3 linked regions of the Homo sapiens genome follow. The protein of the gene in region 1 purifies or fractionates together with the protein of each later gene. This does not show direct contact. Each region holds a gene or a part of one and is shown on either strand. Other genes may lie near its edges. The genes, in order: XKR4, QNG1 and SDK2.

Evidence for each region.
Region 2: the proteins of XKR4 (region 1) and QNG1 purify together in Homo sapiens (affinity purification with mass spectrometry; one large-scale study listed by BioGRID and IntAct). This does not show direct contact.
Region 3: the proteins of XKR4 (region 1) and SDK2 purify together in Homo sapiens (affinity purification with mass spectrometry; one large-scale study listed by BioGRID and IntAct). This does not show direct contact.

What each region holds. Positions count from the first base shown.
Region 1 is NC_000008.11:55,104,997-55,108,644, reverse strand, and holds part of XKR4 (XK-related protein 4), read right to left. Parts: intron 1-3,648.
Region 2 is NC_000009.12:83,950,117-83,953,764, forward strand, and holds part of QNG1 (queuosine 5'-phosphate N-glycosylase/hydrolase), read right to left. Parts: exon of another isoform or gene 3,536-3,648; intron 1-3,535.
Region 3 is NC_000017.11:73,641,619-73,645,931, forward strand, and holds the start of SDK2 (protein sidekick-2 precursor), read right to left. Parts: upstream 2,828-4,313; 5' UTR 2,471-2,827; coding exon 2,407-2,470; intron 1-2,406.

The sequences.
Region 1 (3,648 bases):
ACCAAAGAAAGTTTTGCCAATAATTTACTTTAATATTATTTTAATATAAATACAATTAAAACTTTCAACCAACTTGTTTTTCTGAAAAATGACTCTCCCATTATGATGGGTCTATTTATATGTCCCAATGACATCCAAACTCAAAGCCTGTGAAGCCAATAGATTTCCATGAATGACAGAGACATGACTGAGTCAGAGATGAATAATGACATAGCCTCTGAAGCTTTCAACTTTCTGCCATTCCTTTGAATAAAACAGTGTTTTAACACTTTTCTTAACAGTCCTCACCCCCTATAATCCTTCATGACTCCTTCATGCCTTCAAAATACAATCTAAATTCCTTTCATTATCTGGCCCAACTAGTTCTTCATCTCATCTCTAGCTACTCTCCCTCCCTCACTCCATATGTAGAGCATGCACTTAACCTGCCTTGTTCTTTCTTGCCTCTCTGCCTTTACACATTGCATCCAGGGCTCTAAAGTCAATGTCCCACTTTACTCAGAAAGCAGATTTTTCTCATCCCTCAAACCTTTGCTCAGATATCCCCTCTTCCAGAGAGTCTTACCTGAACCATCAAGGCAGTTTGCGTTTCCTGTTTCTATCGTGCTTATTTTCTTCTATTGAGATGGTCTACTGACTTTTCTGTCTTCCCTATTAGAGAGTAGATTCCTTGAAATATATATATGTTATTCATCTTGGAATAATTAGTAACAAGCACAGTGCCTTGCACATAGCAGGTGCTCAGTGTGTGTTGAATGACTAATTAATTTATATGTATAGAGAGGAAACACATATATGCAGAAAATAACCATTTGATAAACTCAGCAAATGGCACCAATCTTGCCTAATCTATATCAGAATTCAGGACTAACTCAGAATTGAAGACCACCTTTTTTAATAGTCAAAGGTGTAACCTATATCCTCCTTAGTTTTTCTACCCATTCTTTATCTCTAGAACCTCTTTATCATTTGTAATTAACTTTTCACATATTCACATACATTATGCCATGTAATCATTAAAACTACTACGAGATCATGTTCCTTAGCTGGGATTTAATAAAACAACCTCAGTATGTCCAAATGGTATAGTAAGTTAGGCAATGAACTGGGAGTTCAAAGAGCTAAGCTCAAGTCTCTGTTTTACTGTTTAACTACCAGTGTGTTATTGGAAAGATCCCCTAATCCATCTAAACTGCAGCTCCCTTTCCCACTTTGCCATCCACAGTGAAGGTAAATTGTTATTTTTATACATTGTTGTCATCATTATCCAAGTTGGCATTTGGAGGTAGCCAGTTCAGCCAGAAAAAGCATAGACTGTATGGTAAAATGGGCCCCGTTTTTAATCCTAACTACACTACATAATAGTTGGGTGACCCTATTAAGAGGTTAAGCCGCTTACTTAACCTCTCTGAGACAGTTGTCTCACATATACAGATACTAATAATTTTCTTTTAGGTTATTTTAAAATGTAGATGACATAAAAAGTAGAAAAAAACATTTGTATATTTTTAAAGTGCCAATAAAATTGTTATTATTTTTGTTTGGCCAGTTTTAAGAATGGCATATTTATCCAAGTGCTTTGCATGCATCATTATAAGAATGTTTAATAGATGTGACTTTAAAAACTTAACTGATAACTGTACCTTAGCTTATAAAAGGCTCTGAGAAGTCCTGCTGTAGAGAGAGCTGTTTAACTTTGTTTAATCTGTCATTTTCCCAACTTATTTGAACATGGGACACAATCAGTGCCTTCTGGAATAGCAAGCATGACAAGAGCAGAAAAAACTGCATTTTCCTCACATTTTTCCCAGATGACTCTCATGATGGAGACTCAAAAACAAAACCCAGAAGAGTAAGAATAGTGAAAATGCTCCCCACTCTACCATCCACTGACTCATTATTTACAATGTGCATATTTTCTGGAAAATAATTAACTATGTACATACATACATAGGAGAAATTCAGGTAGAGTTTTAAGAGTAAACTTCATAATTTCTGAAGGAAAAAGACATTTGGAGGCAATTGATCAAAAGCATGAGGACTAAAAACTGTTCTCTTAGGGAATTTGTGATTCCCACTGGCTAAACTGCACTCTTAGTAATTTCTGGAATCATATGAGAAAAATAAGAAAGGAAAGTACTTTCGCATTCATTCACAGGCACAGTTCCTTTAAAGTCATAATTGCTCTTTTCACATGGTAGCAAAAATTCACTTTATTATTTCAAATAGCTCTTTCCCAAGCTCACCTCCTGCGACTTTAAAAGCTGCCATTAATTTCCCATTAGTAAACTTTAATTAAAATGAATATGTATCATTGCTTTTAGCAGTTGCATTGTAACATATGTATAAATACATGCAAATCTTACCCACAATGTTTCAATGGCTATTTCTAAACAAGCAAATGCTTTGATGTTATTTCAAAAGACTGTATTTAGAGAAAGCTTTTAGAATCTGGTCCTTCCCTAAAATAATTAGAATTTCATGGAAACACAAGAAGCAGTTACCAACCTAGCTAAAATCTATTTTATTGATCCCAGAAAGTAGCATGTTAAAACATGAATAATGACCTCTGTGCTTTGAACCACTCAGTACTCTGGTGTTTCTGCAATATTTGTGTATAATGTATTGAAAAGAAAAGCTAGAAGAGGCACAGGGATGCTTCTAATTTAAGGAATCATAGTGAGTCTAATAGAAAAATCTGAGATGAGTTGCACTTCGTCGGCTTATTAGCAAAGATGCGTCTACTCCCCCAAAGTTCCACATGAATGTTCAACACTCAGAGAAATAGAAACATATTAGAGCGCATCTGAGTGTTAAGTTCCATAAGCTTTCTTATCCCTTTCCAACTTCCTACATTAGGCTAAAGTTTTGTTTTTTTGAAAAATATACTTCATAAACAGAAAATGATGCTGATTAGTCTTAGATCACGCTTTCACCAGATTACTCTGGCATCCCCCAAATATTTTAATCAGAATCTGAGAATAGTTAGATTAGATGATAATTCAAACTTATCTACTACACACATTATTCTGAAAATGTTGACAAATATTTCCAGAATATTATATCTGATAATATTTCCAACTACAATATTCCTCCTAGATGATCATGCATTATCAGTATTAACTTTAAAGCCTCTAAGGAAAATACTATAGAAATGCTTAACTAAAAGGAGCCATGTGTGACCACAGTTTCTCCAAGTCTGGGTCAGTTAATACATTTGTCTGACAGCCTGCGGTTTTCTTTCTACATTCAAACCTTACCCTTCCATCCCTTCTCTCCCCGCCCCCACTCCCTACCTCTGAAATAACTTTTCTGTATGATAAGTTGGCCCAGTGGCTATGGTCTCTCTGACATGTTTTTAGGCTCATATCTTTTCCTAATTATTTCTCACATTCTGTATATTATTCCCCTAGAAAATTAAGAATCATTTTTCAATTGGGGAGATGTTTGGTTTAGAAGGTATAGTAAACACAACTATAATTAAAAGGACTTCCTCGGTTCACAGAATTTAATATCAGATTTTTCATAAAGAATCAATCTGTAAAAAAAATTACAGTTTTTCAGTTAACAGGATAGAGAAGTATTTGAATTATTTACATAAGTCTAGAAACTTGAAAGGTGGTTAAAATTAAGTGATTTCCAAATCTT
Region 2 (3,648 bases), on another chromosome or scaffold:
TCGGCTCACTGCAACCTCTGCCTCCCGGGTTCAGGCCATTCTCCTGCCTTAGCCTCCCGAGTAGCTGGGATTACAGATGGGCGCCAACACGCCTGGCTAATTTTTGTATTTTTAGTAGAGACGGGGTTTCACCACGTGTGCCAGGCTGGTCTTGAACTCCTGACCTTGTGATCCACCTGCCTCGGCCTCCCAAAGTGCAAGGATTACAGGTATGAGCCACCACGCCTGGCCATCTCTATAAAACATTTTCTTGGTAAGCTCATTATGGTTTTAGAAATCAAATGATTTTTGTAATCAAATTCTGGATCTCTAAAATATTAACTGGTATCACTAAAACTACTAGTAAATCTCCAAATAACAATTGCTTACATGTTTCATGATATTGTTTTGTGATTTAAATATTTTCTAAATCGTACCTTTATAAAATAATTGTCAATAAAAAGCTCTATGACCATGAGTTAATTTTTTTCTTTTCTTTTCTTTTTTTTTTTTTTTTTGAGACAGGGCCTCACTGCTGCCTAGGCTGTAGCTCAATTCAGTGGCTCAATCACGGCTCACTGCTGCCTTGACCTCCTTGGGCTCAAGCAATCCTCCCACCTCAGCCTCCTGAATAGCTGGGACTATAGGTGTTCACCACCAAGGCCAGTTAATTTTCTTGTTATTTTGCAGAGATGAGGTTTCCCCATGTTGCCTAGGCTGGTCTTGAACTCCTGGGCTCAAGTGATCCACCCACCTTGGCCTCCCAAGGTTCTAGGATTACAGGAAAGAGCCATCGCACCTGGACAGTTAAGTTTTTTGAAAAAATTATTCCATAATTTTATCATGAATAAATAGAAAGTTCAAGGATTACAAAAGTTAAGAACAACATAGGCCAAGTGCGGTAGCTCATGCCTGTAATCCCAGCACTTTGGGAGGGAGGCCGAGGTGGGCAGATCACCCGAAGTCAGGAGTTCAAGACCAGCCTGGTCAACATGGTGAAACCCTGCCTCTACAAAAATATAAAAATTGACCAGGCATGATGGCGGGTGCCTGTAATCCCAGCTACTCGGGAGCTGAGGTGGGAGAATCGCTTCAACTTGGGAGGCGGAGGTTGCAGTGAACTGAGATTGTGCCATTGCACGCCAGCAAGACTCCATCTCAAAAAACAAAAAACAAAAAACAAAGGCTGGCATGGTGGCTCACGCCTGTAATCCCAACACTTTGGGAGGCCAAGGCGGGTGGATCACCTGAGGTCAGGAGTTCGAGACCAGCCTGGCCAACATGGTAAAACCCCATCTCTACTAATATACAAAAATTAGCCTGGCGTGGTGGTGCGCACCTCTAATCCCAGCTAACTCAGGAGGCTGAGGCAGGAGAATCACTAGAACCCGGGAGGCAGAGGTTGCAGTGAGCCGAGATTGCGCCATTGCACTGCAGCCTGGGTGACAGCGAGACTCTGTCTCAAAAAACAACAACAAAAAAACTAAAAATAAAAAATAAAATGTTATCTATTGAAATATCAAAAAGCTTATGTTTTTTATATTTATCAGTATGTCACAGTAACAGTAATAGTCATAAGAAAGCCAATTTGCTAATTAGAACTTTTACAAAGTTACTGCATTACTCTAAATCAGAGTAACTTGAAGAGCTTAAAAAATAGCTCTTCTTTCACCTATTCATCAGGCTCTTTGAGGGTGGTGTTTTGGAAATATATCTGAATTAAGCCTCCTAAGTGATTCTGGGGCACAGCCAGGTTGGGAAATCACTGATCTAAATCTATCTAAATTAAAAATTGTTAACTTTATTAATCTGTTCATGTCTAAAAATGAATGATAATCTCAGTAAATAGGTATACGTTAAAAACACATGACTAGTTTGTGCAAATTGTTTATTTTTATTTATTTATTTTTTTGGGGACAAGGTCTTGCTCTTCCAGGCTGGAGTAAAGTGGAACTATCAGAGCTCACTGCAGCCTCCACCTCCTGGGCTCAAGCGATCCTCCTGCCTCAGCCTCCTGAGTAGCTAGAACCACAGGCATGCCACCACGCCTGGCTAGTTTTTAAATTTTTTGTAGAAATGGAGTCTCACGTGTTGTCCAGGCTGGTCTCGACCTCCTGGGCTCAAGCAATCCTCTTACCTCAGCCACCCAATGTGTTGGGATTATGGGCTTGAGCCACCATGCCTGGCCCATTTTGGGGATTTTTCTGTAAAACTGTATGTTAGAAACAAGTACTCATGAGAAATGGTTTCTGTACCAATTTTCATTTAAAAATGTATCAGATTAGGTCAGGCGCTGTGGCTCACGCCTGTAATCCCAGAACTTTGGGAGGCCAAGGTGGGTGGATCACAGGGTCAGGAGTTCAAGATCAGCCTGGCCAATATGGTGAAACCCTGTCTCTACTAAAAATACAAAAATTAGGCCAGGTGCGGTGGCTCACGCCTGTAATCCCAGCACTTTTGAGGCTGAGGCGGGCGGATCACCAGGTCAGGAGATCAAGACCATCCTGGCTAACACGGTGAAACCCTGTCTCTACTAAAAATACAAAAAAATTAGCCGCGCGTGGTGGCGGGCACCTGTAGTCCCAGCTACGAGGGAGGCTGAGGCAGGAGAATGGCGTCAACCCAGGAGGCGGAGCTTGCAGTGAGCTGAGATCGCGCCACTGCACTCCAGCCTGGGTGACAGAGCAAGACTCCGTCTGAAAAAAAAAAAAAAAAAACAAAAATTAGCTGTGCGTGGTAGTGGGTGCCTGGAATCCCAGCTACTCGGAGGCAGAGAACCGCTTGAACCTGGGAGGCGGAGGTTGCAGTGAGCAGAGATGGTGTCACCGCACTACAGCCTGGGTGACAGAGTGAGACTCTGTCTCAAAAAAAAAAAAAAAAAGTATCAGATTGGCTGGGCATGGTGGCTCAAGCCTGTAATCCCAGCACTTTGGGAAGCTGAGGTAGGCAGATCACTTGAGGTCAGGAGTTCAAGACCAGCCTGGCCAACATGGTGAAACCCTGTTTCTACTAAAAATACAAAATTAGCTGGGCATGGTGGCGGATGCCTGTAATCCCAGCTACTTGGGAGACTGAGGCAGGAGAATCATTTGAACCCAGGAGGTGGAGGTTGTAGTGAGCCAAGATACTGCCACTTTCTGGTACATTTTTTAAAAATTGAACTTTTCAGCAAAGCAAAACCAAAGCACTGTGCTATAAATGAAATGCAGTTCTTTATAGCAGTGTGAGAACACACTAATACAATTGAATTCTTTTTTTTTTTTTTTCTTGAGATAGAGTCTTGCTCTTGTCGTCCAGGCTGGAGTGCAGTGGCATGATCTCAGCTCACTGCAACCTTCAGCTCCTGGGTTCAAGTGGTTCTCCTGCCTCAGCCTCCTGAGTAGCTGGGATTACAGGCACCCACCACCACACCCGGCTAATTTTTATATTTTTAGTAGAGACGGGGTTTCACCACGTTGGCCAGGCTGGTCTTGAACTCCTGACCTTGTGATCTACCCGCCTTGGCCCCCCAAAGTGCTGGGATTACAGGTGTGAGCCACCACGCCAAGCCAATTTCTTTTATTTTTTCTTTTATTTTTTTGAGATGGAGTCCAGCTCTGTCACCCAGGCTGGAGTGCGGTGGCGTAATCTCGGCTCACTGCAACCTCCCCCTCCCAGGTTCAAAAGATT
Region 3 (4,313 bases), on another chromosome or scaffold:
TCAGATAAAATCTGGTGACAGTGGTCGATGTGAAGTTTGTCTCAAGGGAGGAACAATTGTTTCGTCCCTCGTTCTGTGCCATGCCTGGAGAAGCAGGCTTGTGGGCTCAGAAATGACAGTGCTAGTGGCTTCAGCTACCCCCCAAAGGATTAATGTCATGGCCTGAGACTGGAAAAAACTCACTCTCTAACCCCAAAGCAGATAAGAAAGGACCTCATGCCCTAATCCCACCCCCTCCAACACTCAAACCCAGCACTGCCAAGCCTAGGACCACGTTCCCACAATCCTTTGCAAGGCTTGCCTCCAGGGACACACACAGCAGGAGAGGGCTCGATGCTGGAAAACACTCTCGGAGCCAGAGAACACGAGCGGAGCAGCAGGGGACCTGGGCAGCCTGACACGCAAAAAGCCAGCAAACAAGAAAGGCAGAGAGGAAGTGAATCAATCACAGAGACTTTCTCTGCTTCTGACAGGGAAGCCCCTCCCGCAGGAGGCGCAGGGACAGGGGGCCACCTGGCCTTAACTTCAGCAGGAGGGGTGGGATCTTGGCCTCAAGTGGATGGCACAGGTGTGGACGTGGGGCAGGAAGGGACACATGAAGACCCCAAAGCAAGGGCCATCAGGTGCCCTGGGGACTCTATAAGGGCCTGGTCCTAGATGAGACAAGAATTGGTGAGCCACCTGCCCAGGGAAATCATACCATTGTTGAAAAGTCTGTAGAGCAATGAAGTTAGAAGGGTCCAGACAGATGCTGGCATCCCGTCCCTCCACGCCGTCCAGGCTTTTGGCTAGTAACACTGGTTGTCCCAGAGCACAACTGTGAGGCTGCTCCAGGATGAAGGACAACCCATTCCTATTCTGCCAGCATCAGGGTCCTCCTGGGACCCCTCAGAGAGGGGGCCCAGACCAAGGAGACCCCATGCAGCTAGTCCTGGTTTGAGGGAGAGAGGCTCAGAACTCATCTGGTTCCAGACCTGCCTCTGCCCCCAGATCACAGAGTGGCCTTGGGCAAGTCATTTAATGCCATTTGGCCTCAGTTTCCCTATCTGTTAAATGGCTACTAGAATAAGATGACCTCTGAGGTCCTCGCTTGTTCAAAGATTTTATGATGATCATAAAAATAATAACTTTTATTACCCTACATTTATAGGGCTCGTTACAAAATTTCGAAGTGCTTTTATGTAAATTACCTCGTAAAATCCTCCCCTCAGCCCTGTGAGTGAGAGCTGATTATTTTCATCTCTTTGATCTTGGCTCTCTGGATTGCCTGGCGCACGAGGCGGCGTGGGGAGTGGGTTGCAGCCCCCACAGTCCGGACCCCTAGGGTGGGTCTGGCCCCCTCCTGAGCCTGCGAGAGTGAAGGCCTAGCCCTGCGAGTCCTGGAGCTCGGTCCAGGCTTCGTCTCCCTCCGCCCCCAGCAGGCGCCGCTCGGACACCGCTGACACCACTGTCTGGATCGGCGAACCCCAAAGTCGAGGAACCGCCGGTGCAGCCGCCCTTCACCTCGGGGACCTGCCCGGGGACCAGGGGGACGTCTGGGCATCCACCCTCAGGAAGCGGGCAGCGCAGATCACACCTCGGATCCTTCGTAGCACTCCCAAACCCAAAGCCACCAGCCCTTCTCCACCGCGAGGCTGCTCCCGGCAGCCACAGGTCACAGCAGCGAGCGGCTGCACAGACTATCGAGCGAACAGCGGAGGCTGGAGGCAGGGGCGGGGATGCTGGGTGTGGGTGGATGGGTAGGAGGGGAGGCCTCAGACCCTCCCTGTGCACCACCCCCCGGTGGGTCCGCGGCTGCACCCGCGACCTTGGCTCCAGGCCCGCGCAGCGAAGCACCCCCAGCCCCAGCGGCTGGCCGAGCAGCCAGGGGCGGGCTCCCGTACGTGGCCAAGCCGGGCAATTGCTCTCCCCGGGCGAGCAACCCGGCATCCAGCGCTCGCCCACCCCACTCCCTCGCCCCGGGGAGGCCATCGCCTGCCCGGCAGGGGCCCTGCCCTTCCCCGCAGACACCGAGCAGGGAACCAGGAGCTCGGTCTGGGAAGCTCAGCGTAGCCGAGCGTGGAGCCCGGCACGGAATGTCGCTCCCCTCCCAAGCCGGCGCAGGGCAGCCACAGCAGACGGGGGGAGGGGAGCGCCCCTCCCACTTCACCTTGGGCTCTTCTCTGCCTCCCCAGGTCGTCCCCACCTTCCCCCATTCGGAAGCCACAAGTCTCGGAGAGACTGCCCCACCCCCAAAAGAGCCCCAAAACTTGGGAGATGGGGTGTCTTGAAACTCCCTGGAGAGGGCTCTGCCACGGCTAAGCCGGGTGTCCAGGAGGTCACCGTGAGGCCGGCCAGCTCCCGCCGCCCCTCCCCCGCCCACTCTCCCAGCCCCCTCCCTGTCCCCACGTGGGGGTCCCTCCTTACCTTGGGCTCTGGCCGCGCGGATCTGATGCAGAGCTAGCAGTGTCCAGATCAAAAGCCCCCACATGGTGACCAGCCTGGAGAGGGGTCCTCGGGGTCTCCCTTCCCTCCGCCCTGTTTTATAATCCTGGTGGGGTCCGATACCCCGTGGCTTAGTCCCAGGAAACAGTCAGTCTACGCGGCTCCGTGCCCCGGGGTGTAATATGCCCGGGAGGGGCAGCGCTTGGCTACCCCAACCCTTCCTCCTCTTCTGTACTAGTCCGAGCCCGGCAGCGCGCCCGGAAGGCGAGGGGCGAGCAGGGAGAAAGAGGCCAGGCCGCCCTCTCGGACTAGGGCGCCTCTCTCCCTTAGCACCCCAACTCCGACTTCTCCCAAACAGGGCGGCCTCTGCGATCCGGCCGGGTCGCCGGCCGAGCTCCGGAATAAATGGACAACTTCAGGAAACTTCCTCCCGTGGCCACGTTGCCCGCCCCCTCCCCGCCCCCTGGTTGGGTTCTCCCGGCCGACGCAGTCACCGCCGTTCCAGGCGCCGGGCCCCCGGGACCCGGCCAGAGCCGAGCGCAGTGGCAGACGCGGGTGCGGGGGTTCTTTTAGGGGCGCCGGTTTCGGGGGACGCGGTGAGCATAGCGGTCCGAATCTCCCTGGAGCTGAAGTTTTCTTCTCTCTAACTTTGCAGGCAGCATCTGGCGGGGCCGAACCACCCCCTCTGGGCTCCACCGCCCTCGCGCCGAATCGGGAGACGCCGGGTCTCCTCCGGGGGCGCTGGGGCCGGGCGCGCCCTCGGCTCCGCGCCCAGCCGGCTAGCAAACTTTGCGGGTCCCGGAGCCGGGCGCGCAGCCCTGAGCGCCCATGTCCGCGCCAGCCGCGGGGCGGCGGGGGAGGGTGCTGGGCTTCGCGACGCGGGCTGTCGCCGGCGCCCGGGCGCAGAGCCTCCTGCCGGCCCGAGGATGGAGACCGGCGGCTCTGCCCTCCGCCGCGCCCCGGCCGGAGCTCTCGGGAAGACGCACGGAGAGCCCGGCGGGCAGCCCCGGCTCCGGGGACGCGGCGCCCCTTCGGACGCCCGGCGATCGCCGACCTCCCGGGCCGGAGGAGCAACGGCCGCCCCAGCGCCTCGGCCGCCGCTGCCGCTCGCCGAGCCCGCCGCCCTCCGCTTCCCGGGCTCGGCGTCCAGAGAGCCGCTCCTGCCTGCGCCGAGCCGGAGCTGCGGGGGCAGCGTGAGCCGGGGACGAGCGCGGCGGAGGCGGAGACGCGGAGAGGGGGGCCGAGCGCTACCCCGTGGCCGCGACTGGAGAGCAGCCTGCGCGCCGGGAGGGGCGGCGGCGGCGGCGGCGGCCCCGAGCCAGGCCCGGGAGCGAGCCCCGCAGAAATACAATCCGACTGCGCGGCCGCGGGCGCCCAGCGGCTCTGGGACCCGCAGGGGGGCAGCAGTGCCAACCTTCTGCCGCGCCGGGAGAGATGCGCGCGAGCCCCTCCGCTCTCTGCCCAGCCTTTCCTTCCAGCCTCGCTCGCGCCCCTGTCTCAAAGGCCTCATAGGACTCCCAGAGTCTCCTATAGTCGGGAGCCCCCAGCCCCCTTCCGGACATGGAGTGATTGGTGGGGAGGCGGCGGTTGGGAAAAGGGGGTCGGTCAACCGATTGATTCCAGTTTCCCCTTCCCAAGTCAGGCTCTCCAAGGTCTGGAAATGCTCAGGGCGGAGGGGGAGACATCGGGAGGCCTGGGACCTGCAGAAGCCTGAGAAAGTGAAGTTGGTGCCAAGGAGCGTGCGTTCTTTGTTTCTTCTTTTTTCCTTCGGAGCCCAGCTTGTAAAGAGTAGAAGAACCGGACATTGGTGGAGGAATTCAAACAAGAGAGCCCGGAGGCGTCCTCTGCTGTGGCCCAGAGCTAGCGCCTACTCCACGAAGCTCAGCTGG